Homo sapiens: one gene and its partners. The protein of the gene in region 1 purifies or fractionates together with the protein of each later gene. This does not show direct contact. Each region holds a gene or a part of one and is shown in the gene's direction. Other genes may lie near its edges.

Region 1 (6,978 bases):
TCTCATAATAATTCTATGCAATCAGAACCATTATCCCCATGTTACTGTGTAAAATGAGGCTCAAAAAAGTTAAACTCTTTGAAATTGCACAGTAAGTTGTGAAGCCCAGGTCTGCCTGACTTGAATGCTCACGTTCTAAATACTAATCTAGCTACTGCCTCATCACATAGTAGTTACAAGCAACAGTGCAAAGTTGAAATAACCTAGACATACAATAACAAAGGAAAAAGAGTGTAGTTATAAAAATGCTTACTGAAACTAGAATTATGTATGTAAAAATTGGGAGACATGTTACATGAAAGAGCAAACTATCATATTCTACACGTGAGTACAAGAAAATTTAACATTTCATATGGAAAAAAGCCAAAATAAACCAATATATTCAAGTTGGTTCAGTGTGGGTAATGGAACTCTGGGTGATTTTCATTGTTTTGCTTTGTTATCCTTTGGTTTGCACCAAAATTGCTTCAATACTAACAACAAAAACAACAAAAACAAATTACGTTCTCATAAACTTTGTTTTGTAACAAAGGAAAATTCTGCCCAGTGTTCCAAACACCTCAAAGTTCCAAGTCTAGGTCTAAACCAGAGTCGTTAAGTATTCTCTGAAAAGCGATCTACTCTTAATTGACATCTGGCGACTCTACATGGACCAATGGCTTCCTCCGCAGGATGTTATGATCTTTATTTTGTTTGTAGCCTACGGAAGAATGAGCCTATTAAGAGCTTATTGAGATTGATGATTGCACAGTGTAGCTTGAAAGGTCCAAATTTAATCCGTTTCAACGGGAGGAACAAAATTCAAAACTGTTTTCAAAGTATTTCGAGAATGTGTCCCTTATCTGGAAGTAATACTTAAAACGAAGCAAACAAAGACGGTAAGAGAAAGTCACAAATGCAAGCTCGCGCCCGAAGCCAGCCTCGGGCAGGTACACTTTGGTGTGGTGTGGCGGCGGCAGGGCGCCAAGCGCCGTGGTTTTTACGGTCTCGTCAGCAAGCAGGGCCGACCTCCGCTTTATCGGACAGGACCAACGCAGGATCCGGGGCGCGGCGGCGACAGGGCCCCGAGGCAGATGCCCGAGCTAGAACTCTGGCGCCTACTTACTCCTCGGCCGGCCCGGCTGCTCCGAAAAACGACCTCACAGGAATGGCTGCAAGAGCGCCGCCGCCGGCAGGGGCTGAGGAGAACGAGCCTGGGGCTCCGGGCCCAGAGATGAGACGCTCTGGCTGGGAAGCAAGGAGCATCGGCACCGACGGATAGAGGCCGGTGGCCCTCAGGTTGAGCAGGCGGCTTCGGGGCGGGGAGAGAAGGGACCAAGGCCCACCGCAGGCCTCAGATCCTCCCACGCCTCCCCGCTGCTACCCAACGATGACGCAAGTACGCATGCGCCTCCCCAGCTGCCGCTGGGAAGAGCGCGCTCCCCAGGGCCCCGCCCCCTCCAAGGATTTCCGGGGAGGCGGGTTCCACTGCTGACTTACCGGTTTTACTCCTCTGCTCAAAAGGCGCCTGCCCGAGGCCGCTTTCCGTTGCAAAGGTTCCTGAATTTGGGGAGGAAGAGCAGCAAGACTGAAATATTGGGCATACGTTTGTTGCTTCATAAACGTTTGCTGAATGAATAAACTGATACGCCGATGTTTGCTTTAATTGTAACTCCCCCTGCCGCAGTTCCCAGTCTTTGAAAATTACAACAGCAACATAGTTTTGGGCGTGTCCTTGACAAATGTGTTTCATTCCCCAGGTAGTACCGTGCAAGTGAACTTGGTGAGAATTTTTTCAAGGAAATTTTTGCCAGCATCGATTTTTGAAACTTAGTTTTTACCATGCTCTTTAAAAAAATAAACACTTGGTTTGTTCAAATACCAACTTTAGTCACACAATCTGGCTTCAGCACCTATTGTTCGGGCCCCATATATCGTTCTCCACACTTAGGATGCTTCATCTCCACATAAAGCATAACTGCAAAATACACAGGGCAGAAGGAGACCTGGGAGATAATACTATGGTTGCAGAAATTAAGACCAGCCTGAGCTCTCGACAACAAGAAAGAGACACAGCGAAAACAAGGCATTTATTTATAATAGGCTCTTGCAAGCAAGGAAAAATAAGGCATTTTCTGATTCGAACGTAGTGCTCTATTACCCCTACTCAACAAACATTTGAATGCCAAAGAGCTGTGAGGGTGGATGCTTAACAAGCAGATGCTAAGCGAGGTTATATTTTTGTAGGAAGCAGCCTGATAAGAAAAGAGCAGATTTTCGAGTCAGATTTTAGTTCAAAAATCAGCTTTGTACTTGGGAACTCAATCATAAGCAAATTACCTTACCTCTTAGTGTCGGTTTGTTCATGTGTAAAACGTGTTAATAGTACCTGACCCAATCTCTTGCCTTCAAGTATATCACTCTATTTCCAAGATGAGATCTCTCACAGTTCTACTACGTACACCGTTAATTTTAACATTATTTAAAAATAGTTTACTAAGTTTATTTCATTTATTTATTTGAGACGGCGTTTTTGCTTTTGTTGCCCAGGCTGGAGTGCAATGGCGCGATCTCGGCCTCCCGGGTTCAAGCGATTCTCTTGCCTCAGCCTCCCGAGTAGCTGAGACTACAGGCGCCACCACGCCGGCTAATTTTTTGTATTTTTAGCAGAGACGGAGTTTCGCTATGTTGGCCAGGCTGGACTCGAACTCTTGAGTTCAGGCAATCCGCCCGCCTCGGCCTCCCAAAGTGCTAGAGGATTGCAGGCGTGAGCCACCGCGCCCGGCCCTAACATTTCAAAACGTTTGGAATTCAGGCAACAAGAGACATTTTGTAAGAACATTTAAAACCCTTCTCCCCTGGAAATCAAGAGATATGTATGGAGTCTGGAGATTCCGAACTCAATTTTCTAGGACAAAGGCAAACTCAGATGATTACAAGAATGAAAGTGATCGTCACGCTGCTTCCAGGTTCCAAAGTATGGATAATTTTTTTTTTTTTTTTGAGATGGAATCTTGCTCTGTCGCCCAGGCTGGAGTGCAGTGGCGTGATCTCAGTGCAAACTCCGCCTCTCGGGTTCAAGCGATTCTCCTGCCTCAGCCTCCGGAGTAGCTGGGATTATAGGCGAGCGCCACCACGCCCAGCTAATTTTTTGTATTTTTAATAGAGACGGGGTTTCACCATGTTGGCCAGGCTGGTCTCCAAATCCTGGCCTCAGGTGATCCGCCCGCCTCGGCCTCCCAAGGTGCTGGGATTACAGGGGTGAGCCACAGCGCCAGGCGAGAAATATTTTTTTAAAGAGGAATTAAAGAACCTAATTGGTTTTGAGAGTTCTCCAAGAGCCAGTAAATGTTTTCCCCACAATATTCCATTCTACCCCATTACTGTAGAGTCGTTATAGAAGAAAACAAAATCACATAACGCAACTTGGGCCAAAAAACATTACACGTTCCAATTACGGAAATAACGAACTGAATCGTGTCACCCTTGAACTATGTAAAAGTTGAAAAGATGTTCAGTGTTAAATGTAGTAACAGTTCCACATTAAAAGATATTTACGTTCGAGTTTACAGTATTTAAAAATGCCTTTCTACACACTTTCCCGGGAAGTTAATGCCACTTCAGTTGAGCTGTCTAGCGAGATGGTTAAGCATTTACTGTGTCTCTAACACCGACCAGGGGAAAAATCATCAATTCGTTTGCCCGAGTTTAAGAGAATTTTCACCTAACTTCTAATCTCCACAGCCAATCAGTTCTTGGAACCGCACACCCGATGCCGACATCCCTCTCTTGTTGGCTCCCCTCGTTAGCGGGATTCAATAACTAAACGTCCATTTCTAGCATTGACTGAAGAGCTCAAGCTTGACACTCGACCTCAATCCTTAGCAGCACCGCCCACCATGCTCCCGGAAGCTGCGACACTACGCCCTGCGCTAGTCCCGGGACGTGGGGTTTTATATCCGGATTCTTAGCGCGGACTCAGAACCCAGCTCTTCCCTACACGGTCGGCACATGCGCGGCAGCTCTTTTCCTTCTTCCTCCACTTCCCCTACCCTCCACCGTCCGGGAGCCGCCGCCACCGCCGCCGAGGAGTCAGGAAGTTCAAGATGGCCGCCGCGGAGACCCAGTCGCTACGGGAGCAGCCAGAGTAAGTAGTCTCTGTGAGTGGGCCAGAAGCTGGAGCCCGGGGACTGCCGAGTGGGAGCTGCACGGGGTGGCGGGAAAGTTCGGGCCTAACGGCGAGAGTCAAACTTTGCTTTTTCCGGCGCGATTCGTTGTGGGGTGGGAGGCATGGGGAGCAGGCGGCCTTCGAGCTTCCTTCTCCCAGAGGCCGTGGCTGCTGGGGTGAAGGCGGCCGCGGCCTGCCGCGCGTCGTTGCCCCGGGAGGCGTAGGCGCGAGCGGCCTCTACAGGTCCGGTGCGCGTGGCGGCTGCCGCGGCAGTGAGGTCGCGCTTTCCTATGCCTCTTTTGGGGACCCATCTGAGCTCCCTGGCCGCAGCTCTTAGCGGCATCTGTGTTGGGGACACGAGGGTCAGTGGCAGCAGGCGGGCCAAGCCCTAAGTCTTTTCTTCCTCATGCGGTACCCCCAGTCGTCCTTTTACTGGTGTCAGTTTAGGACCTGAAAGCAGAGAGCGGAGGTGCTGGGGTCACACTCTCTGGCCATCCCAGAGCTAGTCTGTGGCTAGCGGGATACTTGATCTCGTCACCTTGTACTCTTTAGTCCAGCAGTCACCCAGTATTGTTTTGTTTTGTTTTGAGTGCCTACCGGCAGCTTTTTTACCAACTTGCAAACTTGAGGCAAAGTAAGATAGAGTCTTTGGTTTTGAGGCCTGGCATTTTTTTTTTTTTTTTTTTTTTGCCTGAGTTTATAACCCTTCTTTAGGAGGACGAGTGGAAGGAGTAGTGGGAATTGCTAGCTACTGCCAAACCACTTTATGTCTATAATTAAGCTAACATTAAGAATCCATGCGGCCAAATGAAAAATGAAAAAAAAAAAAATACGAGTGTATGCTGCAAAGGTTAACCATTGGTTAACTTAAAGCAGTATTTTGCTGTTCATGTCTATGTTAGGAAAACTCAAACAAGAACCTTAACAGAGAGAATGGATTTTACGGCAATGTTCCTATAGCGACCGTTTTTTTTTTTTGTTTTGTTTTTTGTTTTTTTTTGCATCTGCACTGTCTGATCTGTTTCCAGCCATCTTAGAAAGAGGTATAGTCTCCCAGCAACTTGTGACTGAGCGATAGAAGAAATCTTTGCCACCAGACAACCTGACACTTAATTGCTGTGCATCCAGTTTTGGGCTCCTCAATCATCTGCATTACTCAGCTAGGCAGAGAAACGGAATTTTTAATTAAGGGCTTTTCAAAACTGCTGTATTATTTTTACAATTTGACTTAGCAGAGAACAAATGGATTCTGAAGTTTTAAATTAGCTTTAACCTCTTACTGTTTCTCACCAAGTTCATTGTGTGGCACAATTACAGTGTTTATGCCAGTACCGTGCAGATCTCATGCTATGTGGTTACATTTTCTACTAATCTGAAAAGTTCTGTAATATTATGTCCATTTATTTGATTTTAGGGATGTTTCAGATTCATTTCCAGGAGTGGGTCAGCCATAGTTTATTCACATACTGTATTCAAATAATATTAGACTTAATAATTTCAAAAATACATATTTAGGCCTCTGCTGTATGAGTAACAGAGATAATCTTTAATTTCCCTTCCCTTCCCCACAGAGCACTTGGTGTAAATGGAATATTTGGTCTGTATATGTCTCACTTTCAGTAGTTTGAAAGTATTTAACAAAGAAGATAACCATTTGGTATGAAAGCAAACTATGCCTGGTGCTCATAGTGAGTCCCTGAATATAGTGTCTACAACAGTTCTTTAGAGAACACTGAGTAGTTTACAGTTATATAGAATCTATTCAAAACAGAAAATTTAGAAAGAATAAATATAAGAAGCAGCTTTTAAGCTCCCTGAAGGCTTTAATTCTTTTAACAACCCTATGGAGGTAGATACGTTTATTTTCCTTATTTTAGAGATGATGAAACTGAAACACAGAGAAATTAAGTAACTTGCTCAAGGTCACACTCAGTGGCACACCCATTTAAACTCAGGCAGTCTGGTTCTAAAGCCCTGCTGCTAACTATTGTACTGTCTGGCCTCCCACTATACAATGTGGCTTCTTTTTAAATTGCTTGTCAAGTATGAAATTATTTTTGTTTTTTTCCACTGTCCCAGAAAGATACATTTTTTGATGTGACATGTCTAATTTATTGAGAACTAATTTCTCAAACCTGATTTGGCAAAGCAGAGACCAGAGGGAATGTTTTAAGACTAGTTGGTCTTTTGGACCCATTCTGATTTTTATAGCTACATTAATTCTTTTTGTTCATTTTATTTATTTTTGAAACACGAGCTCTTGTCACCCAGACTGGAGTACAGTAACATTATCATGGCTCATTGTAGCCTCAGCCTCAAGTGATCCTCCTACTCCAGCCTCCGGAGTAGCTGGGACCACAGGCATATGACACCATGCCCAGCTAATTTTTTTTTTTTTGAGACGGAGTTTCACTTTCTCTCCAGGCTAGATTGCAGTGGTGCGATCTTGGCTCACTGAAACCTTGGACTCCCTGGTTCAAGCAGTTCTCCTGCCTCAGCCTCCCGAGTAGCTGGGATTACAGGCACGTACCACCACGCCCAGCTAATTTTTGTATTTTTAGTAGAGATGGGGTTTCACCTTGTTGGCCAGGATGGTCCCGATCTCCTGACCTCGTGATCCGCCCACCTCAGACTCCCAAAGTTCTGGGATTACAGGCGTGAGCTACCGTGCCGAGCCATGCCTAGCTAATTTTTAAGTATTTTTGTAGAGGCAGAGTCTTCCCATGTTGCCCAGGCTGTTCTTGAACTACTGGGCTCAAGTGCTGCAGGTACTAGGGAGTCTGAGGCAGGAGGATCATTTGAGCCTAGGAGTTTGAATCTAGCCCAGGCAA
Region 2 (3,113 bases), on another chromosome or scaffold:
GCTACTTGGGAGGCTGAGGCAGGAGAATCGCTTGAACCTGGGAGGCAGAGGTTGCAGTGAGCTGAGATTGCACCATTGCACTGCAGCTTGGGCAACAAGAGCAACTGTATTTTTTTTTACACATGTGCCATTTTTGCAAAATATATTTTCCAAAACAAATGAGCAGGAATGGCATTGGTTTTTCCATTTTTGCAAATCTCTTCAGTCTGGCTGACGGAAGACGGCTGGACCCACATGCCTCGTGCCTTCTGGAGATCCTCCCAGGCTCCTGCGGACTGAGTGACGAGGCAGATAGTGTCTATATTACTGTTGAACCACACAGACCTGAAAGGGCCTCGGGGACCCCCAGCCATGCTGACCACACCCCAAGAGCTGGGGCCCAGATGGAAAGACAGGGAGATTGTCCTGGCTGGCTTTGATGGGTGGAGCTCAAACCAGATAGAGGACAAGGGGGCCTGGCCACCCGCACAGACACTCCCAGACACAGAGAACAGGCAGGGGGCTTCCAGACCCCTTCCCAAGCAGTTCTCTGGGTTTGTCGGACACAGGAAGAGGAAGCTGCTCACCTTTGTCCCTAAGCCCAGGGCCTGTGCCCTGTGTGGCTGGTCTGGAACAGCCTTGCTGCCCTTGCCTGGGGTTGGAACCAGGGCCTCTGGGGTCCTGCGGACCTTTGTTCTCGCACCAGCCTTGGGCCTGCGCTGGGCAGTGGCCCCCCCCTCGGTTGCCGCGCCTCCCTCCTAACATTGCCAGAGTGAAACACTCCTAGTCTCTCGGCTTTGCTTGTATTTCTTTACTGCCATGTCTTTCTTGTTGTTCCGTATTTGAAGACCCATGTGATAAATTTCTTCAAAGCTAGGAAGGAGTTTTGTCTCTCTGCGTGAGATATTGGCTGCTTGCTGGAACCTGGGGCCCAGGTTTGGCCTCAGCCTCATTTCCAGATGCCTTGGTGCCCACATCTCTCTTCTCCTACTTGGCTCTCCCCTTTTTATTTCTTTATAAAAATGAAGGTGGTGAACTAAGCAGCCTCAGGCTTTAGAAGTGAGTCCCTGGCATCGGTGAGGCCACCCACACAGCCATTCCCTGTACATCAGGAGGGTGGTCTCACTCTGTACCTATCACCCAGGTTCTCGGGACCGGAAGTCAGGTGGGAGACTGGGCTCCCCGAAGCCAGAGCGGCAGAGAGGCCAGAACTCCAAAGCCCCTGCAGCCCCGGCTGACAGGTGAGTCCCACCCAGCATGTGCCCTGGGCACACCGAGGGGGCCAGCCCCAGTCGCTTCCCCAGGGAGGCCAGCAGCAGCAGGGCTAGCACTGGGCCAGGCTGGAGGCGTCACTACAGCTCCTGCTGGTCTGACGGGGTGAGGGGCATGGACAGCGAATTGCAGCCCCACCCCCCACCCCCCCCCACACACACACACACGCTCCTGCCCTGGTTGAGGCTGGAGGGTGCCCTCTGCTCCGCATGCCCTTGGGCAAAAGATCCCTGGGCACAGAGGTGGGAAGAATAACAGGAGGTTGTGCGGGGCCAGCCCAGGACCCTCCCAGTCTGCTCCACAAAGCCCGGGAGCCAGTGGCTAGGACCAGGCCTGCTTGTGGCAGTGGGAGCCTGGCCATCCAGGGAGCCCCTTGCCTGTCCTGGTGGCCGCTGAGGACACAGTGGAAGCGCCCCTACGGGGAGGTCACCCCTTCCACCTGCAGACGTGGCTTCTGGGGGCTCAAGGTCTTCCCCACCCCCTTGTAGGAAGCGCCAGCTGTCACCCCAGTCCAAGAGCTCCAGCAAGGTCACGAGCGTGCCCGGCAAAGCCTCGGATCCCGGCGCCGCCAGCACCAAATCAGGGAAGGCCAGCACGCTGTCTCGGCGGGAGGAGCTGCTGAAACAGCTGAAGGCCGTGGAGGATGCTATTGCACGCAAGCGGGCCAAGATCCCCGGGAAAGCATAGGCCGTGCCCCGACCGGACTGGACGCATTTTTATACATAGGGTAAGCGCAGCCATTTTGGATTTTGCAGTTAATGTCTTATTTTGGCTGTGATTCTTTTTAAAAAGTAAAAAAGAAAAAAAAGTTTCTCAGCTGGAAAAGAAGCCACACAGGAAATGACAACGACGCTGAATCCCAGCCTCCCTCCCCAGAGCAGAAGTCCCGCAGGACAGACAGACACAGACAGCGCTAGTGACCAGCACGGTTCTCATGTAAATTACAAGCCCCAGCCGCCAGCCCCGCCTTCTCTTCCTCCTCCTCCGTCTTCTTCCCTGGCCCTGGTCAGGCCTGTGGAGCCCCAGCTCTGGGTCCCTAGCCCGGGTCCAGGCAGCCAGGCTCCCTCCTGAGCTGAGAAACGGAACCTCGCGAACCACTGGTGGCACATCCTTCTCCTCCCCCGCCCCTGATCACCCGCCCCCGGATCAGAAATATATCTATATTCTCGACTAAAGTCTCATCAGGAAATATTTCCTGTCTTTTATTTTAAGCATCAAATTGTTTTAGTTGATTTAAAAAGGAAAAAATACAGAAAAGACCAAAAAAAGGCCAAGGGTGTTGTTGGGGCGTCTGTCTAATGTGGTGGGTCTTTTTTTGAGGGGTCTCCTAAAATAAAATATTTTGATAAGCAGCTGTCCTTGCCCTCGTGGTGTGTGCGCCCTCTGCCCATGCGCAGCCGGGGCTGCCTCTGTGTCGTGCACTGCACTCGGCCCAGCACTCGGGAGCCGCTGGGGGGCGAGGGTGTGGCTGTGCACTCACTCCCCCCGGGAGGACCGGCTGTGGAGCAGCTCCTGCCTTCAGACCCAGCCCAGGAGAGCATTGCGCCTCAGTTTCCCCATTCGTGGGGCTGGGTTGGGGCTTCCTTGGTCCGTGAGGTGGAGGTACTTTCCCTGCAGGGGCCGTGGAGCTGCTGGAGGGGAAGAGGTCCAGGGCTGACTCCCAGCCCCAAGCCCAGCTGCCACCACTGCAGTGACCACCACCGGCTCCGTGTGCAGGCCCCAGACCTGCTGAGCCAGGCCCCGCGTGTGATGCCACGTTCCACAGCAGGGGCCACCGGCAGAGCCCCCCAGGACCCACCGCTGCTGCTCCCTGCTTTCCACCTTGAAAGCCACAGGCCTGCGCCTGGGCAGCGGCCTCCCAG
Region 3 (7,000 bases), on another chromosome or scaffold:
CCTGGGTGGTGGAGGTTGCAGTGAGCCAAGATTGCGGCACTGCACTCCAGCCTGGGCAACAGAGCGAGACTCTGTCTCAAAAAAATAAAATAAAATAAAATGAAAATCAAGAAACTGTCATAAAAGAATATTTTGGCTGGGCATGGTGGCTCACACCTGTAATCCCAGTGCTTTGTGGGGCTGAGGCCGGAAGATTGCTTGAGGCCAGGAGTTGTAGTGAGCCATGATTGCGTCGCTGTGCTCCAGCCTGAGTGACAGAGCAAGACCCTATCTCTTAAAAAATGTAGTTTTGAGGCCCGGTGCAGTGGCTCATGCCTGTAAGCCCAGCACTTTGGGAGAGTGAGGTGGGCAGATCATCTGAGGTCAGGAGTTCGAGACCAGCCTGACCAACAGGGTGAAACCCCATCTCTACTAAAAAGACAAAAAATTAGCTGGGCATGGTAGCATGTGCCTGTAATCCCACCTACTCCGGAGGCTGAGACAGGAGAATCACTTGAACCTGGGAGGTGGAGGTTGCAGTGAGCCGATATTGCGCCATTGCACTCCAGCCTGGGCAATGAGCAAAACTCCGTCTCAAAAAAAAATTTTTTTTTTGAAAAATATGACTTTACATTGAAGAAACGTGATAAACAGTACCTCAGCCCATTAGTGATAAGCCATATTGATATAGCATGTACCTTTGATATGACGTGATGAGAATGGCCCTTTTACCTCTGTAGTTTTCTTCCCAAAAGCTCATAACTTCAATTTAATTGAGGGATGTTTTACAAAATACTTGACCAGTATTCCTCAAAGCTATCAAGATCATCAAACACAAGGAAGGTATGAAAAGCTGTCACAATGTAGAGGAACCTCGGAAGAAATGAAGATTAAGTGTAATATGGTATCTTAGATGGGATCCTGGGACTGAAAAATGAAAAAGGACATTAGGTTAAAGACTATGGATATCTGAATAATATATGGACTTCAGTTAATAATCTTGTCTTGGTATTGGTTGATTAGTTTGACAAATGTGCTTTACTAGTGTGAGATGTTAACAGTCGGGGAAACTGTGTGGGGTATATGAGAAGTCTCTGAACAAGTTTTGCAAGTTTTCTGTAAATCTAAAACTATCCTAAAATAAACCGTTTATTTAAGACCAAGAAGAATGCTTTTAAAAATAGAAGAAAACATGAGGGGAAAAACAACCAAGAGTTGAAAGTTACAGCCAGTGGGAATGGGTGAAGCAGGACAGAGAACTGCAGTTTCTCACCATGAACATTGTAGAACTATTTTTGGCCACTTAAAATATGTAGAGTATGACTTTGGTTAAAATAAGTTTAGTGTTCTGCTATACAAATTAATAAAAATGAAAGCTGAATTTTGAACACAATTTTTATGTTGATACTAGCTTGCCAGTTTTGAACTAATATTGTATGTCTTGGGCAGAGTGACATCTATATTAACAAATCATAGAAAATCTGTATGGAAGGCATATTATCCCTATGTTTCAATTAGGAGCACTGCTAAGAATTTTCTGTTCACTGAAGAAGGGGATTTGTGAGTACATATATTTAGTTGTTTACTGGCTTATTTCTTTTTGACAGATACTGGGTCGTCAGGATGGAGTTTTGCAAGACTGGGTCATTGACGATTGCATTGGTAACTGGTGGAGACCAAATTTTGAACCTCCTCAGGTCAGTGTTCAGTTACATTTGCTGGGCATTTTGGAAGCAGAAAGCTCGTTTAATTCTAGCCACTTTAAAAAAGATTAAAGTAGAATTTGACTTGAAATTTTCTTTTCTTCCCTCCTTAATTTAAATTACAAAATTAAGCCAAGCACTTCTTATTTTAAAGGAAAATGTAAAACAAATACAAGGCCGGGCGAGGTGGCTCATGCCTGTAATCCCAGCACTTCAGGAGGCCGAGGCGGGTGGATCACCTGTTGAGGTCAGGAGTTTGAGACCAGCCTGGCCAACATGGTGAAAGCTCGTCTCTACTAAAAAATGTAAAAATCAGCTGGGTTTGATGGTACAAGCCTGTAATCCCAGCTACTCCGGAGGCTGAGGCAGGAGAATTGCTTGAACCTGGGAGGCAGAAGTTGCAGTGAACCGAGATTGTGCCATTGCACTCCAGCCTGGACAACAGTGAGACTCCTTCTCAAAAAATAAATAAATAAATAGAACAAATACAAAAGAAGAGAGAATGGTAAAAGTGAATGAATTGCGCTACCCGTCGTCTGCCTTTAACAGTTAGCACATCACAACCCCTCATTCCACCGCTTCATTCTCCTACCCTCATCTTGGATTATTTTGAAGTGTATCCTAGCTATTCATTTCAATTGTAAATATTTCAGTGTGAATCATAAAAATAAGGATCTCTTTAAAAAGATAACTATAGTACTGTTATTATCATACTAAAAATAAACAATTCCATATTATTGTCAAATATATAGTCACTGTTCGCGTATCCTGATTATTTCTATTTTCTTTTTATAATTTGTTTGGATTAGGATAGTCTCTAAAGTCTCTTTTACACACTTGGCACCTTTTTTTTTTCCTTGTGTTTTATTTGTTAATGAAAACAGGCTAATGTTTCCATTTCGATTGCATTCCCCTGTTGTTGTTGAATATGTAGCTGTTTCCCCTGTGTGTCTTGCAAATTGATAGTTAGATCTAGAAATTGTATTCAGGCTCAGTTAATTTGGGGAGGGGTAACAAGGCTTGTCATAGGCGGTATATAATCTATACCTGCATAACAAATTACCTCAAAATTTAGCAGCCTTTAGGCCTCTGGGAGTTGCTTAGGGTGGTTCTGGCTTAGGCTCTGTCATGAAGTTACAGTCAAGTTGTCAGCTGGGACTGCATCATAAGGTGGAACTGGGGTTAAAGTATCTGATCCCGAGCTTACACGTGTGTGTGTTAGCAAACTTCTTAGTTTCATCTGGGCTGTTAGACTAAAGCTTTGCTTCAGGTGTTGCTGGCTGTTGTCTCAAGGTCTCCCTCAGTTCCTTGCCATGAGAACATCTCTAAAAGGACAACTCTCAGGCAGCTGGCTTACCCAAGGCTGTGTGATCCAAGAGATAGTGAGAGACAGAGTGCTAGAGGAGTGCCCAAGTAGGAAGCCTCAGTCTGTGATAACCTAATCTTGGCAGTGGCATACCATCACTTCTGCTGTGTGCTATTGGTCACACAAGCCAACCCTGGTACGCTATAGGAGGGACTACACAAAGCAGTGAATACCAGGAGACAGGAATCATTGGGGGTCATCTTAAGGCAGTCTATCACAATTGGTATAGTGTACTTCCATCAGGAATTTAAAAATATTTGGTTGTTTCTTGTTGTAATGTTAGCAGCTCATTGATGATCATTTCCTGGTCTATGAATTCATAAGGGTTGTGATCCTCATATAAAAAGAAACTTATGTATTACTGAAGTGTGTGGTTTGTGTAGAAAAAAAAAATATGCTGCTATTCCTTTACTTAACATTTTTCAGAAGAATGACTTAATTCCTTAGCATCCTCTAAAGACTTGACTTTATTCAAAAGAGAGGGTAAGACCAAGACTTGGGTACAGGCAGTTTGAGAGGTGATTCCAGGAAGCAGCAGAATACAGGGGAGAGAGAGACCAGAAGCAGCAGAAGTAAGACAGGGCATGTTATTGATCTTTTTACACCTGTGGGCAACTGGATTTGTTCTGTTAAGGACCAGGAACCATGTAGGGACTCCTATACCCCATTGGATAAGGGTTGCATGAACTCCCTTGCATTTCCATGTTGAGTCTTGAGTGCTTGTTGAGACAGTGGCAGCAAACAGGGAACCCTCTGATACTTTTCAAACATAGCTGCCCCGAAATCAGAGGTAGCGTAATGTGGGGCACACACACACAAAAAGCATGTTTCAGTGACCTTTAAAGTGTCAGTATGACCTTTTGGATTTAAATAATTTGAAATATTTTAATCCATGATAATGAGTGATGATGTTACTGATGCTCAAATATTCCTATTTTTGCTAATGGTGGAACTTCTTAAAGTTGGATCCTGAATTCTTTAGGCAAATTAAAAAGCCCTATGACTTTATAGCTCCTTTACATGACAAGATGTTTCAGGTCAAGCATTGCACAAAATATCAACCAAGCAAAAGATCGTTCTTTTCTCTTGCTTCTGACTCCCTTGTATGGCAGAGGGACAAGAAGATAGGGGCTGTGGAAGCTGATGCTGGTGTTCACTACCTAAGAATTGCCAGGAACACATCTTGGCTTTAAGGAAGAACAATTTCATATGGAAACAGTGAAGTTACTTGTTCAAAGATACATAGTACAGTTATTCTAAACTTTTTTTTGGCTTCCTGAACATGCCTTGATCTAATTGGAAAATGCTTAGTAGTGACCCCAGTGGTTTTCCAGATAACTTTTCTGAATATCTTCACTCATCTCCCCTACCACTGTCCTAGGACAGTTCTCTTCATTCAGTAAGGCCTAGAGTTGGCCCTGGTGGTATTTGACATAAGGTAAGTGTATTGATTTATTTAGGAAGCCTAGAGTATTAGTTAGATGTCAGTGGAAAAGGAGCATATCATCTTCCTATCTCAGTCTTTTTGTATAAAGTACAGTCAACTTAAACATTAAGACCAGAGAAGAAAGGCTTAAAAAAATAGGAACATGTAGCCTTGAGCAGAAGAAATTTGGGGAAATGCTACTCATTTTGTTTGATCATGGTTTGGGAACTTTTATTGTATGTGATCCACAGATCTCTTAGCTTGTGCTATTCAGGCCACTTTCTCTGTGACTGTTAATGTATCTGGTTTTCATGACAGTTTAAGGAACCTCCAAAGCCTGGGACAATTGCCTCAATTCATTGTACCCTAGGGATGGCTCTGATATATAATTATTCTAACTGGAATACTGGTTAGGTGCCAATGAGTAACACAGTGGGAAATAACATAGGCTTTTATAATTAGATAAGAGTTGAATAGATACAGTTAAATCTTGGCTTCACAACTTGGCTGAGTAATCTTGGGAAAGATACTTAGCCTCTCTTAGCATGTGATTCTGTGTAAATTGAGGATGATGCTAATACCTCCTTTTGGCAGCTTCTGCTTTTATCTCACTTTCCCCTTATATCTGTTTTCAGCAATTTTAAATTCCCCAGCTCTCAGATACAACTCCAACAGCAAAAGTAGATTTCTGAATGTATTGTGGAGAGATTTATACAAGAATTGTATAACCCTTAGACTTTTTTTTTGTTCTGTGTCAGAATTTTTCCTTCCCGGGTAGCAACTTCCCTCTCTAATTCTCTTCATCCCTTTAAATTCTCTAAAATATACATATATATTATATATATATTTTTATATTTGTTTCCTCGAGTAATTTGGCTTTGCCCATCTGGCAAAACTTCACTTAGACTGCTCTTCTGGTATTCCTGAAGCATGCACCTTGGCATACGGGGAGGTTTGAGGTTGGGGCTGGAAGGAGGAGCAAGAAGCATCTTGTCAAATGCCTCACAGCTTATATTTGAATTTTTAATGTAAACAGGTCTACAACAGGATTCTAGACTGTTTAACTTACTGATCATATATATATATATATATATATATATATATATATATATATAATTTTTTTTTTTTTTTGGGAGACAGAGTCTCACTCTGTTGCCCAGGCTGGAGTGCAGTGGCATAGTCTCGGCTCACTGCAAGCTCTGCCTCCCAGGTTCACGCCATTCTCCTGCCTCAGCCTCCCGAGTAGCTGGGACTACAGGCGCCCGCCACCACGCCTGGCTAATTTTTTGTATTTTTAGTAGAGACGGGATTTCACTGTGCTAGCCAGGATGGTCTTGATCTCCTGACCTCATGATCCGCCTGCCTTGGCCTCCCAAAGTGCTGCGATTACAGGCGTGAGCCACTGTGCCCAGCCTATATATATATTTTTAAAAAACCAGCTTTTAGGCTGGGCATGGTGGCTGATGCCTGTAATCCCAGCACTTTGGGAGGCCAGAGCAGGTGGATCACCTGAGGTCGGGAGTTCAAGACTAGCCTGGAGAAACCCTGCCTCTACTAAAAATACAAAATTAGCCAGGCATGGTGGCGCATGCCTGTAATCTCAGCTACTCAGGAGGCTGAGGCAGGAGAATCACTTGAACCTGGGAGGCAGAGGTTGTGGTGAGCCGAGATTGCGCCATTGCACTCCAGCCTAGGCAACAAGAGCAAAACTCTGTCTTAAAAAACAAACAAACAAAAAAAAGCTTTTATTAAAGATACTAATTAAAATCGGACTTCATTATGTTTTAAGTATCTCAAGCTATAAATCCTGTGACTACATATTTTATCTCGAATGGTTGACTGGTTTACTGCTTGTTATTTTATATGCATTAAAGCATTTATTTACTAGTGTATCTGTTAGATAAGTCCTGGTAAAGAGGACAGAAAGTAGTATGCTTCTCCCAACAGTTTATACTATACTGGGGAGTAAACATGTAAAGAAATGAAGCCATGGAATACATATTAAAGTTGTATTCATTTGTAATTTCAGTATCCATATATTCCTGCACATATTACAAAGCCTAAGGAACATAAGAAGTTGTTTCTGGTTCAGCTTCAAGAAAAAGGTAAGTTATTTTGTTTTCAAAGGTAGCCATCTAAAAATTCTGTAGAATAATTTCAAGGATACCTCTATTTGTGTTTTCTCAAAGTTCCTTGAACTTTTGGGTTTGTTGTAAAACTAAAGATGTATACCATGCTTTTAGTTTCAAATCTGTGGCTAGGAAATCTACCTTGAAAGACACAACCAAAATGTATTAATGAGAATTATCTTTTTTCTTACACTTTTTATTAAATGTAAAATTGGTAATTTAAAAATGAAATGGAAGCAGTGATTATATAATAACTTATAATAATGAATTCTGTTTTATTTTAGCCTTGTTTGCAGTCCCTAAAAATTACAAGCTGGTAGCTGCACCATTGTTTGAATTGTATGACAATGCACCAGGATATGGACCCATCATTTCTAGTCTCCCTCAGCTGTTGAGC
Region 4 (7,051 bases), on another chromosome or scaffold:
CAGCCCTACATTTTAAAAATTGATTGGAACCTCCAGGGTTAATGCATTTTAAAAAACATCAGGCTGGGTGCAGTGGCTTACATGTGTAATCCTAGTACCTTGGGAGGCCAAGGCAGGAGGACCACTTGAGTCTAGGAGTTCGAGACCAGCCTGGGCAACATGGTGAAACCCTGTCTCTACAAAAACAAAATTAAAATTAGCCAGTTGCACATGCCCGTAGTTCCAGCTACATTCCCAAGGCTGAGGCAGGAGCATCGCTTGAGCCTAGGAATTAGAGGCTACAGTGAGCTATGCTTATGCCACTGTGCTCCAGCCTGGGCAACAGACCAAGGCCGTGTCTCTAAAACAAAAACAAAACAAAAAACAGCAGGTGACACGGACCCATGAAGAAAGCCATTAAATTAAATGTTTTTAAAAAGTAGTGTACTTGGCCGAGCACGGTGGCTCACACCTATAATCCCAGCACTTTGGGAGGCCGAGGCGGGCAGATCATGAGGTCAGGAGATCGAGACCATCCTGGCCAACATGGTGAAACCCCGTCTCTACTAACAATACAAAAATTAGCTGGGTGTGGTGGTGCATGCCTGTAATCCCAGCTACTCAGGAGGCTGAGGCACGAGAATCACTTAAACCCAGGAGGCGGAGGTTGCAGTGAGCTGAGATCGCACCACTGCATTCCAGCCTGGTGACAGAGTGAGACTGTCTCAAAGAAAAAAAAAAAAGTAGTGTACTTATTAAAACTTTTTATTCTGAAAACTGTCGTAATACAAACAAGTAGGAAGAACAGTACTGTGAATACCATATCCTCACATGTAGTCTCAACACCGAAGTGCAATTACATGGGTTATGTTCTGGCACATAGAGCTGTGCAGCTGAGCTGAGTTGGTTAGAGGTGAACTATTTACTTGGAAGAGAAGGAAGCAAGGAAGGAAAGGTGGGATGAGTTCAGTAGAGTGTTTGGAGTGTTTGGTGGTAACTAGGATAGTTACTGTTTTTCCTTGTAGGTGTTTTTTTGTTTTGTTTTGTTTTGTTTTGTTTTGCGACAAGGTCTCGCTCTGTCGCCCAGGCTAGATTGGCTCACTGCAACCTCCACTTCCTGGATTCAGATGATTCTCCTGCCTCAGTCTCCCAGGTAGCTGGGGATTACAGGTGCCCACCACCATGCCCAGCTAATTTTTATTTTTATTTTTATTTTTTTGAGACGAAGTTTCACTCTTGTCACCCAGGCTGGAGTGCAATGGCATGATCTTGGCTCCCTGCAACTTCCACCTCCCAGGTTCAAGCAATTCTCCTACCTCAGCCTCCTGAGTAGCTGGGATAACAGGCATGCGCCACCACGCCTGGCTAATTTTCATATTTTTAGTATAGATGGGGTTTTACCACATTGGCCAGGCTTGAACTCCTGACCTCAGGTGATCTGCCCACCTCGGCCTCCCAAAGCGTTGGGATTACAGGTGTAAGCCACCACGCCTGGCCTTCTTAGGTGTTTATGGGATGGTCCTACCTTTGGGATTTTGTGAATTTTCAAGCAGTAAATATACACATGTCCAAATGGAGGTATTTAGATCAAAGTAAGATCTTTTTTTTTTATTTTAATGAATTTCTACATGTTTTTATTTGGTGGATAATTGAATTAGTAGACTTACGAATGTATTTATATTTATTTATTTAGAGGCAGAGTCTCTCTGTGTTGCCCAGGCTGGAGTGCAGTGGTGCGATCTTGGCTCACTGCACCCTCTGCCTCCTGGGTTCAAATGATTCTGCCTCAGCCTCCCAAGTAGCTGTGATTACAGGTGTGTGCTACCATGCCCAGCTAAGAATGTATTCATAGTTACCTTAAAATATATTTGATTTGGGCTGGGTGCGGTGGCTCACACCTGTAATCCCAGCACTTTGGGAGGCCAAGGTGGGTAGATCACAAGGTCAGGAGTTCGAGAACAGCCTGGCCAGGATGGTGAAACCCCGTCTCTACTAAAAACACAAAAATTAGCTGGGAGTGGTGGCGAGCACCTGTAATCCCAGCTACTTGGGAGGCTGAGGCAGGAAAATCACTTAAACCCAGGAGGTGGAGGTTGCAGTGAGCTGAGATTGCGCCACTGCACTTTAGCCTGGGTGACAGAGCAAGACTCCATCTCAAAAAAAAAAATGTGTGTGTGTGTGTGTGTGTGTGTGTGTGTGTGTGTATATGTATATATATATATATATATTTGATTTAGCTACTAAGAGTATGGAATTGTTCTTTTTGGTGATTTAATTGAGATGGATAATAAATTTGCTTCAGAACAGACATGCAGTGTTTCTGATGTGTGCATGTTTTATTTCCTAGGGAGCAAAGGGAGAAAGAAGAAATAGAGAAATATCGTATGGAACGCCCCAAAATCCAACAGCAGTTCTCAGACCTCAAGGTGAGCCGATGAAGCGGTGAATGGTGTGCGGTTTCTAACGCTCTCACCCTAACCCGCAGAGACTCAGACTGCTCTTACGTGGAATTTATGAGACTTTACGTTTTTAATTTAGGGGGTCATTGCTTAGAAGAAGAAAGTGTTTGCTTCAGTATGTTTAATTATATGTGTGTAAAAAAAAACCCTTCCCCTACTGTAAAAGGTAGGACAAATGAACTTATTTTCTTTGTAATTTTGACTCCATTTATACCTAAGATTTTCTTTTTTCTTTTTTCTTTTTTTTTTTGGAGGCAGTCTGGCTCTGTTGCCCTGGCTGGAGTGCAGTGGCGTGGTCTCAGCTCACTGCAACCTTCACCTCCTAGGTTCAAGCAATTCTTGTGCCTCAGCCTCCTAAGTAGCTGGGATTACAGGTGCCTGCCACCATACCCAGCTAATTTTTGTATTTTTAGTAAAGACAGGATTTCGCCATGTGTACCAGGCTGGTCTCAAACTCCTGAACTCTAGTGATCTGCCCACCTCAGCCTCCCAAAGGGCTGGGATTACAGGCGTGAGCCACCACGTCTGGCCCCATTTATACGTAAGATTTTCTAAACTGTGTCCCCTGGGCTTTGAGAGAATAATTTACATTTTAGTGAAGTTGAACAGATCCAATAAATTGATTTTTCTTTTCTTTTTCTTTTTTTTTTTTTTTTGAGACGGAGTTTGGCTCTTGTTGCCCAGGCTGGAGTGCAATGACGCGATCTCAGCTCACCGCAACCTCCGCCTCCCAGGTTCAAACGATTCTCCTGCCTCAGCCTCCCTAGTAGCTGGGATTACAGGCATGTGCCACCATGCCCGGCTAATTTTGTATTTTTAGTAGAGATGGGGTTTCTCCATGTTGGTCAGGCTGGTCTCGAACTCCCGACCTCAGGTGATCTGCCCGCTTTGGCCTCCCAAAGTGCTGGGATTAACAGGCATGAGCCACCGTGCCCGGCCTAAATTGATTTTTCTAAGTGAAGTAGAAAACTATTTTTGGGGCTGGGTACAGTGGCTCACATCTGTAATCTCAGCACTTTGGGAGGCTGAGGTGGGAGGATCACTTGAGCCCAGGAGTTTGAGACCAGCCTTGGGGAGAACCTGTCTTTACAAAAAATAAAAACTTAGCCAGGCATGGTGGCCCACGCTTGTGGTCCCAGCAACTTGAGAAGCTGAAGTGGGAGGATCACTTGAGCCTGGGAGGTTGAGGCTGCAGTGAGCTGTGATTGTGCCACTGAATCCAGCCTGGGCAACAGAATGAGACCCATCTCAAAACAAAAGTAAAAAACAGTTGCTGCATCCAAATCCCTTCTAAAGCTTGGTGATCTGGAGGCTAGGGGTGAGAGAGGGCATGGTCCTACCTGGGCACATGAAATTCTGTCAGAGAATTAATGTTTTTGGGGGCTGGATATTTCCAGAGGAAGTTGGCAGAAGTCACAGAAGAAGAGTGGCTGAGCATCCCCGAGGTTGGCGATGCCAGAAATAAACGTCAGCGGAACCCACGCTATGAGAAGCTGACCCCTGTTCCTGACAGTTTCTTTGCCAAACATTTACAGACCGGAGAGAACCATACCTCAGTGGATCCCCGACAAACTGTGAGCTTCCAAAAAAGGGCACATGTGGCCCATTTAGTCCTGTTAGATCAGTGGCAGGAATGGTGGGTGGTGTTGGATTCAATGCTTCTGCAGGTCATGGCTATGCTGTGGCCGAGTCTGTCTGCACAGCTGTGCATATGTCAGGCCACTGGGGAAGTATTTCAGAGAGTAAATTTCTTGGGCATGCAGTGCAAACCGTTGTTTTATTCTTGCCTTTCCTCTCTTCCCCTCCAGCAATTTGGAGGTCTTAACACACCCTATCCAGGTGGACTAAACACTCCATACCCAGGTGGAATGACGCCAGGACTGATGACACCTGGCACAGGTGAGCTGGACATGAGGAAGATTGGCCAAGCGAGGAACACTCTGATGGACATGAGGCTGAGCCAGGTGAGTTTGTCACACAGCATTTTCCTGTGGACAGGTTTAGACAGTTTAATTTTGTTTTGTTTTCTTTTTCTCCTTCTTCTTCTTCTCCTTTTTCTTCTCCTCCTTCTCCTCCTCCTCCTTCTTCTCCTTCTCCTTTTTTTTTTTTTGGCTTGATTTTTGCCTGAATAATTCCGCAGATTTTTAAAATTTTGACCCAGAGTCTTGCTGTGTCACTCAGAGGCTGGAGTGCAATGGTGTGATCTTGGCTCACTGCAACCTCCACCTCCTGGGTTCAAGTGATTCTCCTACCTCAGCCTCCTGAGTAGCTGGGATTACAGGTGCCCACCACCACACCCGGCTAATTTTTGTATTTTTTGTAGAGACGGGGTTTTACCATGTTGGCCAGGCTGGTCTTGAACTCCTGACCTCAGGTGATCTGTCTGCCTTGGCCTCCCAAAATGCGGGGATTACAGGTGTGAGCCACTGCACTTGGCCTTTTTTTAAAATATAAAATAATAATTTTTTAAAAAGTGTGTTTTTTTCCTGCCTCTCAGTAAATTGTCTTGTGGCCCTGCATGGAACGTGTACTTTGATCTGGAGACTAGGTGCTCTAGACACCAGTGAAGTACAGAACTCTTTCTGATATGCATATCAGATACCACGAAGGAACATACTACTTTTGGCCTGGCCAACATGGTGAAACCCCGTCTCTACTAAAAATACAGAAATTGGCCAGGTGTGGTGGCGGGCGCCTGTAATCCCAGCTACTTGGGAGGCTAAGGCAGGAGAATTGCTTGAACCCGGGCGTTGGAGGTTGCAGTGAGCCGAGATTGCACCAGTGCACTCCGGCCTGGGCAACAGAGTGAGACTGTCTCAAAATAAAAAACAAAAACAAAAACAAAAAGTGGCACAATCATGGCTGGCTACATACAGCCTTGACCTCCCTGGGCTAAGGCGATCCTTCCACCTCAGCCTGCCAAGTAGCTGAGATTACAGGCATGTGCCACCATACCCAACTAATTTTTGTATTTTTTGTTGAGATGGGGTGTCACTAGGTTGCCCAACCTGGGCTGGAGCTCCTGGGCACAAGTGATCTGTCCGCGCTGGCCTCACAAAGTGCTGGGATTACAGGTGTGAACTACCATGCCCAGCCTGAAATTTGTTTACATAGAAATTGTAAAACTTTTTGGGCCAGGCACTCATGCCTGTAATCCTAGCACTTTGAGAGACCAAGGTAGGAGGATTGCTTGAGGTCAGGAGTTCAAGACCAGCCTGGGCAACATGGTGATGGTGAGACTCTGTCTCTACAAAAACTAAAAGAAATAGCTGGGCCTGGTGGTGCCTGTAGTCCCAGCTGTTCGAGAGGCTGAGGTGGAAGGATTGCTTGAGCTAGGGAGTTTGAGGCTGCCATGAGCTATGATCGCGCCTCTGCACACCAGCCTGGGTTACGGAGTGAGACTGTCTCAATAAATAAATAAAACTGTCACAGTAATTTTTTTGTGGTAAAATATATGTAACACAGAATTTACCATTTTAATCATTCTTGACTGTACATACCTTCACTGACATAATTATGTTCATGTTGTTATACAACCTCATCACCATTCATCTCCAGAACTGTTTTCATCTTCCCAAATTGAAACTCCGTACCTGTTAAACATTGAGTCCCCGTGCGCTTTCTCCCCAGCCCCTGGCATCCACCGTTCTCTCTGTTTCTATAAATGTCACTACTCTCTGGATCTTATATGACTGGAATCATACAGTATTTACCTTACTGTGACAGGCTTATTTCAATTAGCTCATGGTGCAGCATGCGTCAGCATGTTCTTTTTTTTTTTTTTTTTTTTGAGACAGAGTCTCTCTCTGTCACCCAGGCTGGAGTTCAATGGCATGGTCTTGGCTCACTGCAGCCTCCGCCTCTCGGGTTCAAATGATTCTCCCACCTGAGCCTCCCAAGTAGCTGGGACTACAGGTGTGCACCACCAAGCCCAGCTAATTTTTTTTTTTTTTTTTGAGACGGAGCCTGGCACCGTCACCCGAGCTGGAGTGCAGTGGTGTGATCTCGGCTCACTGCAACCTCCACCTCCTGGGTTCAGGTGATTCTCCTGCCTCAGCCTCCCGAGTAGCTGGAACTATAGGCGTGTGCCACCATGTCTGGCTAATTTTTGTATTTTTAGTAGAGACGGGGTTTCATCATGTTGGCCAGGATGGTCTTGATCTCCTGACCTCGTGATCCACTCGCCTCAGCCTCCCAGGATGCTGGGATTAGAAGTGTGATTTTTTTGTATTTTTAGTTAGAGATGGGATTTCACCATGTTGGCCAGGCTGGTCTCGAACTCCTGACCTCCAGTGATCCACGTGGCTCGGCCTCCCAAAGTGCTGGGATTACAGGCATGAGCCCCGGCGCCCCGGCCAGCATGTTCTCAGTTTAAGGCAGGATGAGACTTGACTCTTTGGTGTGTGTGGACCGCATTCGCTCATCTATGTAGACCGCATTCGCTGACCTGTTTATTCGCTGACGGACACTTGGACCACTTTCACCTTTTGACTATTGTGAATAATGCTGCTGTGAATACGGGTGTACAGATATTTGTCAGAGACCCTGCTTTCTATTCTTTCTTTTTTAATAAAAATTTTATTTATTTTTTTTTGAGACGGGGTCTTGCTCTG

The links.
Region 2: the proteins of PRP4K (region 1) and ZC3H18 purify together in Homo sapiens (co-immunoprecipitation; 5 studies listed by BioGRID and IntAct, with this or other methods). This does not show direct contact.
Region 3: the proteins of PRP4K (region 1) and NUDT21 purify together in Homo sapiens (affinity purification with mass spectrometry; 2 studies listed by BioGRID and IntAct, with this or other methods). This does not show direct contact.
Region 4: the proteins of PRP4K (region 1) and PRPF6 purify together in Homo sapiens (affinity purification with mass spectrometry; 3 studies listed by BioGRID and IntAct, with this or other methods). This does not show direct contact.

The regions. Positions count from the first base shown.
Region 1 is NC_000006.12:4,017,341-4,024,318, forward strand, and holds the start of PRP4K (serine/threonine-protein kinase PRP4 homolog), read left to right. Parts: upstream 1-3,959; 5' UTR 3,960-4,085; coding exon 4,086-4,126; intron 4,127-6,978. UniProt on the Homo sapiens protein: Serine/threonine kinase involved in spliceosomal assembly as well as mitosis and signaling regulation. Connects chromatin mediated regulation of transcription and pre-mRNA splicing.
Region 2 is NC_000016.10:88,629,362-88,632,474, forward strand, and holds the end of ZC3H18 (zinc finger CCCH domain-containing protein 18), read left to right. Parts: intron 1-1,123; coding exon 1,124-1,220; intron 1,221-1,739; coding exon 1,740-1,938; 3' UTR 1,939-2,603; downstream 2,604-3,113.
Region 3 is NC_000016.10:56,434,333-56,441,332, reverse strand, and holds part of NUDT21 (cleavage and polyadenylation specificity factor subunit 5), read left to right. Parts: intron 1-1,586; coding exon 1,587-1,676; intron 1,677-6,503; coding exon 6,504-6,579; intron 6,580-6,887; coding exon 6,888-7,000. UniProt on the Homo sapiens protein: Component of the cleavage factor Im (CFIm) complex that functions as an activator of the pre-mRNA 3'-end cleavage and polyadenylation processing required for the maturation of pre-mRNA into functional mRNAs.
Region 4 is NC_000020.11:63,991,081-63,998,131, forward strand, and holds part of PRPF6 (pre-mRNA-processing factor 6), read left to right. Parts: intron 1-2,326; coding exon 2,327-2,405; intron 2,406-3,835; coding exon 3,836-4,012; intron 4,013-4,246; coding exon 4,247-4,402; intron 4,403-7,051. UniProt on the Homo sapiens protein: Involved in pre-mRNA splicing as component of the U4/U6-U5 tri-snRNP complex, one of the building blocks of the spliceosome.